Linked DNA regions of Homo sapiens. The protein of the gene in region 1 purifies or fractionates together with the protein of each later gene. This does not show direct contact. Each region holds a gene or a part of one and is shown on either strand. Other genes may lie near its edges.

What was found.
Region 2: the proteins of PLEKHF1 (region 1) and VAMP7 fractionate together in Homo sapiens (co-fractionation; one large-scale study listed by BioGRID). This does not show direct contact.

Annotation. Positions count from the first base shown.
Region 1 is NC_000019.10:29,668,251-29,672,072, reverse strand, and holds part of PLEKHF1 (pleckstrin homology domain-containing family F member 1), read right to left. Parts: intron 1-3,822. UniProt on the Homo sapiens protein: May induce apoptosis through the lysosomal-mitochondrial pathway. Translocates to the lysosome initiating the permeabilization of lysosomal membrane (LMP) and resulting in the release of CTSD and CTSL to the cytoplasm.
Region 2 is NC_000023.11:155,894,808-155,898,629, reverse strand, and holds part of VAMP7 (vesicle-associated membrane protein 7), read right to left. Parts: intron 3,008-3,822; coding exon 2,950-3,007; intron 519-2,949; coding exon 381-518; intron 1-380. UniProt on the Homo sapiens protein: Involved in the targeting and/or fusion of transport vesicles to their target membrane during transport of proteins from the early endosome to the lysosome. Required for heterotypic fusion of late endosomes with lysosomes and homotypic lysosomal fusion.

The DNA.
Region 1 (3,822 bases):
AGAACAGGAGCTTCTTCTTGTTCATTGTGTCCACAATTCTTGGAGCCATGCCAAGCACATACTAGATGCTTCATAAGTAGCTTGGCACGGTTCCAAGCAGGTCCCAAGGCCCACCATGCATGACTCAGCTCTTACCTCTACAGAGGAAGAGGTGAGAGCTGGCCCCACCACCACCACGTGCACACATGCATTCCGGTACACACGGCACGCCTGGGGCTGAGCTGATCACACCCATAGTGTTTCTGGGTCACTGAGCTGCAGTTCTGAGCCTGGCCACCAGTAGAAAGCCAGAGTGGGGCCCCAGTGTGAGGGTGGATGCATTGCAGAACAGAAGATGCTGGGCCCTCGAGTCCCGTTCCACTTGCCCCTGCAGATCACAAGTGTCCTGAGAAGGGCTGCCCACACTACCTTACGTAAGAACTGCTATTTTTAGCTTGCTGATCTTGGCTGTATACTGCAAACCTAGGGGATTACCAGTGACAGAACTGACCTGTCCCACCATGACTGATCACCGAGTACCTGGCTGAGGGACAATCTGACAAAACCAGAACTGCATTCCACAAAGAGCAATGACTGCCCAGCAGAGACAACCAAAATGCCTACCAGCAGGGAAAAGGATAAAAACCCGGGGCTACTCACGCAATGAGAGATACAGATCAATGTGGTCTGACGGCAAACAACAAACGTGGAGTGGAAAAACACAGCCTGTAGAATGTTGTATGTAAAGTGACACCACTTATGCAGGAATTACATAACATTCTGAAAGTGTTCAAGAACTATATCTATGAATAAAAATAGGTAGGAGGAAGGCCGGACACAGTGCCTCACACCTGTAATTCCAGCTACTCGGGAGGCGGAGGCAGGAGAATCGCTTGAACCCAGGAAGCAGAGGTTGCAGTGAGCCAAGATGGCGCCATTGCACTCCAGCCTGTGTGACAGAGTGAGATTCCATCTCAAAAAAAAAAAAAGGAGGGGAAAAAAACAAAACAAAAAATAAATAACAAGTGTTGGTGAGGGTGTGGAGAAACTGGAAACTGTGCACTGCTGATGAGAATAGGAACTGGTGCAGCCCCTAAGGAAAACAGCATGGAAGTTCCTTAAAAAGTTAAAAATACTCACGCCTGTAATCCCAGCACTTTGGGAGGCCGAGGAGGGGGGATCATGAGGTCAGGAGATCTAGACCATCCTGGCCAACACGGTGAAACTCTGTCTCTTAAAATACAAAAAATTAGCCTGGTGTGGTGGCGAGCGCCTGTAGTCCCAGCTACTCGGGAGGCTGAGGCAGGAGAATGGCGTGAACCCAGCAGGCGGAGCTTGCAGTGAGCCGAGATCGCGCCACTGTGCTCCAGCCTGGGCGACAGAGTGAGACTCCGTCTCAAAAAAAAAAAAAGGTTAAAAACAGAACTACCATATGATCCAGCAATGCCACTTCTGGATATATATCCAGACTGAAAGCAGGGACTAAAATAAATATCTGCTTTCCCATGTTCATATCAGCATCATTCACAATAGCCAAGAGGTGGAAGCAACTCAAACGTCTGTCAATGGGAGAATGGATGAACAAAATGTGGAACATACATACCATGGAATACTATTCAGCCTCGAAAAGGAAGGTAATTCTGACGCACACTACAACACGAATGAGCCCTGAGGACATCATGCTAAGTAAAGCAGGCCCATCACAAAAGGACAAATACTGTAATAACTTATATGAGATATACATACTGATCAAATTCATAGAGACAGAAAATAGAATGGTGGTTGCCAGGGGCTGCCAGAAGGGGAATGCGGAGGTTGTCTGGGTATGGAGTTTCAGTTTTAAACGATTAAAAAGTTTTAGAGGCCAGGTGTGGTGGCTCATGCCTGTAATCCCAGCATTTTGGGAGGCCAAGGCGGGCAGATCACTTGAGGTCAGGAGTTCGAGACCAGCCTGGCCAATATGGTGAAACCCTGTCTCTACTAAAAATACAAAAATTAGCCAGGGATGGTGGTATGTACCTACAATCCCTGCTACTGAGGAGGCTGAGGCAGGAGAATCACTTGAACCTAGGAAGTAGAGATTGCAGTGAGCCAAGATCACACCACTGCACTCCAGCCTGGGCATCACAGTGAGTTCCGTCTCAGAAAAAAAAAGTTTTGGAGATCTGTTGCACAACAATGGGAATATACTTAACACTACTGAACTGTACACTTGAAAGTGGTTAGAATGGTAAAAATAAAAGATAGGAAGGAGAAAGTCAGGAGTAAGTAGCCTGGGGAGAGGACATAGATGTGACCAGGAATGGAGGGCTCAGATTGGATTCCACTTTCGTCTATAAGGTTTCATTTTTAAAAAAGTTTTTTTAAAAAAAGGCAGCAGCAAACACGATGAAATCCGAATATCTGCCAATTTCAAGAAATGGGAACACGTGTTGCTTCTTCTAATTTAAGGTCTTCAAAAGGAAAAGAATTACAGGCCAGTGTCTGGATTGGGTCCTGGGCTCCATGGGCTGGGGGCCGCTGAGCATGTCTCATGATGGGACGCCTGGCTGGGCCTGATAGGGTGACCACATGGCATCCAGGCCTGGGCACCTGCAGGGGATGTCAGGAGCCCCGAAGAAGCAAGGCCACGTGTGCCCCCAGCCCAGCTGTGTGCTGAGAAGTCAGGCCACTGGTGAAACGGGATGAAAACCCAAACCTGAGACTGCAGACCAAAGCCTCCACATTCAGTAGCTGAGGCAGGTGGGCTTTGTGCCCAGAGAGCAGGTAGCCCTCCCGCAACCCTGGGGGCTTGTTGAGCTCTGGAGACTGGGCCAGCCAAGTGGATGGCATGGAGGAAGGGAAGGAGCAGCACCAGGCAGAAGAGAGCTGCAGGCAGGGGTGCCCAATCCACCCTGGACCCGTCCAGCAGAGGGCAGAGTCCATGACGCTGTCTCTGCAGCCCTTGGAGGGGGTGCAGAACACTCCACATGGGACCCCTTTGCTGCTCTGCCCCCACCCATGACTCACAGACCCCCTCTAGGCTCTTAGGGCTAGTGTCCAGCTGCTGATGGTAAAATGTGGACCAGGAAGGGCGAGGAGGGGCATCTGGTGGCGATGAAAGGGGCTGGGCTGAGAGCTGACCCCACACACTGACTGGGGAAGCCAGGGGCTCACATGTGCCCTCCTTTGTGAACCTGCAGAGGGTCCCAGGTTGGGCGAGGGGCGGGGCAGACAACATCCTCCTGGGAGCTGCCCCGGCATGCTCACCTTCTCTACATGACCACAACTTCACATCCTGGTTTGACCTTGCCTGTAGGTTTTTCTTGGCAAATACAGCAGCCCTGAGTTAGATGGGGAATGCTTTTTTCTTTCTTTCTTTTTTTTTTTTTTCTGAGACATTGTCTTGCTTTGTTGCCCAGGCTGAAGTACAGTGGCACAATCAGGGCTAACTGCAGCCTCGAACTCCAGGGCTCAAGAAAGCCTCCCGCCTCAGCCTCCTGAGTAGCTGGGACCACAGGCATGCACCAACATGCCTGGCTAATTTTTAAATTTGTTTTAGAGGCGAGGGTTCACTCTGTTGCTTAGATAGGTCTTGAACTCCTGGCCTCAAGCAATCCTCCCTCCTCAGCCTCCCAAAGTGCTGGGATAGCAGGTATGAGCCACTGAGCCCAGCTGGGAATCCTTTTTTTTTTTTTAATTGTTCTCACTAGGGAAGTGAACCTCCCTTGCTTAGCACAGGGGAGAAAAAAGCTGAGCCCTGTCCTTACTCATTTGGGGCCGGCCTGCCTCGGGAAGATGTTGGTGACAGAGCTTCCTGGCAGCCTCTGGGCCCTGAGTGCCTGTATTGGCCCCAGTGTGGCC
Region 2 (3,822 bases), on another chromosome or scaffold:
TTCAAATTATTAATTTGGGTTGTTAGAAAATTAAATTTCCCTCATGGAAGGGTAGAAGGTTTACGTATAGTTTAAAAGATCATTTGGCATGCTGAACACATTTAAGCATCAGATGGGTAGTTCAACTAGATGATCTTTAATGCTCTTCCAATCATGAGACACTGTGACCACTATTAATAGAGATAATAAAGACTATCACTGTTTTCTACCCTAAAATGGCCCCTTTACATTTTTTTTTTAATCAGGGAAGTTTTATTATGTTGGCTTACAGTAACACAATCAGAAAACTATATTGCAGGTCAGGGCCCCCTAGATTCATAGTGTTTGAAGGTAATGAAGAAGATATAAATCAAAATACCTTATCCTGAGAAAGATCTTACCAGCTGTGCAGCTAAGACACTTGAGAACTCGCTATTCATGGCATATGGAAGTGCTGTCTGTGCTCTTGAACCGTAAGTAGTCTGGAACCTCTTCTTTATCTCATTCAGAAAATTAAAGGCTCGGGAACGTTCAAAATCCTGAAAAGAGATCAACACAGAACTCACATTTAGAAAGTAAACAAAGATGATGTGAGTGATTAAGAACAACAATAAAAAACAGCTAACATTTACTGAGCAATGATTATCTGAGGAGGAACTAGCATTGATCCTATCTTAAAGATAAGTAAAGGAAGGCTCTGAAAAAGTAACTAACTTGTCCAAAGGTCCAACAACTAGTAAATGAAAGAGCTGAGAATGAATCCAGATATATCTGGTCATTGACAACTGAAGATAATGATACCTAGGTTATCAACTTCTTGACATCAGGAATTGAATTTTACTTCCTCCATATATTTCATAAGATCTATTAGAAGGCCCAGCACAAGAATATGTTTAATAAATCCCATAATAATCATAGAGTCTTTCACACATACAGATACTACTACTGATATTAACTTCAAATCGAATTTTTTCAATAGTGGTGGTATATTTGAAAAGATCAAGTGACATACTCATGTCTAATCCCAGCCAGCCAAAAAGTATGTGTGTTCTCTGTAAGAATACCTTAGAGGAAAAAAATGAATGTGTGTATGTGTGTTTATGTATACATGTATATGTGTGTATCAAATTATAGCTCAAGAAATATGAGGCTCGACTCTAACTATCCCAGATTTCATTAGTATTTTCCTTCTATTCCAAGCTGTTTCACATCAGTCATTTCACATATAGCTAGATTTTTTCGTACTTTTGGAAAATATTGTGAAGCCAGAGATAAAAATCATTGTGATGATCACTATGGTTGACAGTCATTTCCCTTTCACCCAAGATGCTTAGTCTAAGCCAAGGGTTCTTAAATTGGGGTCAATGGTCCAAATTCAAGGGGCCTTTGAACTTGGATAGAAAAAAAGAAAATCACATCATTATTTTTATCAATCGTTAACTTATATTTCAATTGTGAATATAGGTTGTATATTCATAATCGGGGTAGTATTAAACAGTACCTGTAACTGTCACCAACAGAAATCTTTTTTTGTATACCATCACAGTTACAGATATCTCAAAATACTGTCAACACCCATCACATCAAGACTATTAGTTATTAGACCTATGACTAGATCTTGTTAATGAGTTCATAAAGAAGCATATATATTACTACATCAAGTTTTTAAAATATTTTGAATACTATATATATATATATTTCAATATAATTGGCTTTGTTAGAATTGTGTGTGTTTTATACATTTAAAAGCATTCTGGAAAAGGAAAATTAAAAAAAGAAAACAAAAACATTCTGGGAGTGTCCCACAAGTGACGAGTCTGTGATACAATAAAGATTAGGAACCCTGATCTATGGCAACCATGCCAATTCCAAGTCTCTTTGCCAGTAGGCAGTTTAGAAATGAGCATGCAGCCAATAAGACATGAAAGGAAGTTCACTTTGAAAGCAGGGGGAGGGGAGGGCATGCAGCTGGGAAAAGCTTCCTCATTCCTACAATAAGACACTCAAGAAGACACAGTCCCTCTACTCCGGACATGAATAAATAAGTATGTAGCTCTACGAAACCATAATGGCAACCTGTCTGGGAAGAAGGAGACACGGAGATAAGCAGAGAAGAGAAAGGACCTTAATGACATCATTAAGTTACTGAGAATTTTGGGCTGAGAGCCGACAAACAGTCATACCTAACCAATGTAAACTACAGGTTTATATAGCTGATCATAATGTATTGTAATTTTGTTTTTCCAAAGTTCACATACATTAAAGGATTCATTAACTACTGATAGAAGAAATGATGCTATCTAATTTAACATTCCACGTAAACAATTTTTGAGAGGTTTTGATATCAAAGAATTATAATTATGAACATCAATTCTCACTACAAAATAGAATAAATATAGAAGTTGCAAGAGGCTAAGCTAAAACTCTACCAAAATTGAGTTGATTTGCACATACCCCAGTATCAAGTTTTCTTAACATTTGCTGCTCTATATGACAAATGCAAAATATTAACAATTCCAGCTATGTAAAGTTCGCATCACGTTTGCCCACTATAGGTACAGATCAGCAGTCCCCAACCTTTTTGGCACCAGGGACCGGTTTTGTAGAAGACAATTTTTCCAAGGACTGGGGGAGGGTGAATGGTTTCGGGATTAAACTGTTCCACCTCAGATCATCAGGCATTAGATTCTCCTAAGGAGCATGCAATTTAGATCCCTCGGATGCAGAGTTCACAACAGGGTTCACACTCATATGAGAATCTAATGCTGCTGCTGATCTGACAGGAGGCAGAACTCAGGTGGTAATGCTCATAGGCCACTCACCTCCTGCTATGTGGCCTGGTTCCTAACAAGCCACAGACCTGTACCGGTCTGCAGCCTGGGGGTTGGGGACCCCTGGTATAGATAATTAAGAACTGGCTGTATTAACAGTACACATAGTTAAATAGCAATATGTCTTCAAGTTACTTACATCATCAGTGATACAAAGATATACAATCCTGTCTTGGCAGATGTAATGAAACAAATAACTGTAGAATAAAAGATATAAAACTTACTGTGGTTATAAGCAACATCACTTTTACTTCTATCTTCTATCTATGTATAAGCACGTTCAGTACTGCCAATGTCACCATATTACTTACGGATACAGTCTCTTCTCCCTCTTCCCCTTCCCAATATACCTGTTTCTTTCAAGTCAAACTGATAGAAGTACATAAGAAATAAAAAGATCTCTATTCTAGCTACATAGCACAACAGCATGTGTATTACCCATTAGAACGATAGCTGCAAAAGCATAATTGGACTCTTAAAGCATGAACAAGAGATGACATCTTAGGAGGAGGATGTAATTAAGATTAACCCCCAATAGGCCATATGGTTTTCTTTGCTTTTTCCTAAGTTCTTAAAGCAAACATCTTTTCTACCAAATTCTCAACATTTGAGTATCCACTTTGAGTTAGTTACTGTGCTGGATGCTGAGGATACAAAAAAGCAAAACCACCAAGTCCCAGTCTTCATAGGGATCACAGTGTAAGGAATTACAGTGCAGCATGGCAAACAGGATGACAGGAAAGTTAAAGGCAGTACATGGTGCTCTGGGGACACATTAATAGATGAGGCACGAAATGGAGATTTGCCAAAGGGTAACCAGAAAGACTTCCCAGAACAAGTGATGTCTGATTTAAGACCTGAAGAATAAGTAACAGATGGCAAGGTAAAGAGTGAGCGAAAGGCCAGGCGTGGTGGCTGGCTCATGCCTGTAATCCTAGCACTTTGGGAGGCTGAGGCGGGCAGATCGCTTGAGCTCAGGAGTTCAAGACCAGCCTGGGCAACATGGCAAAAC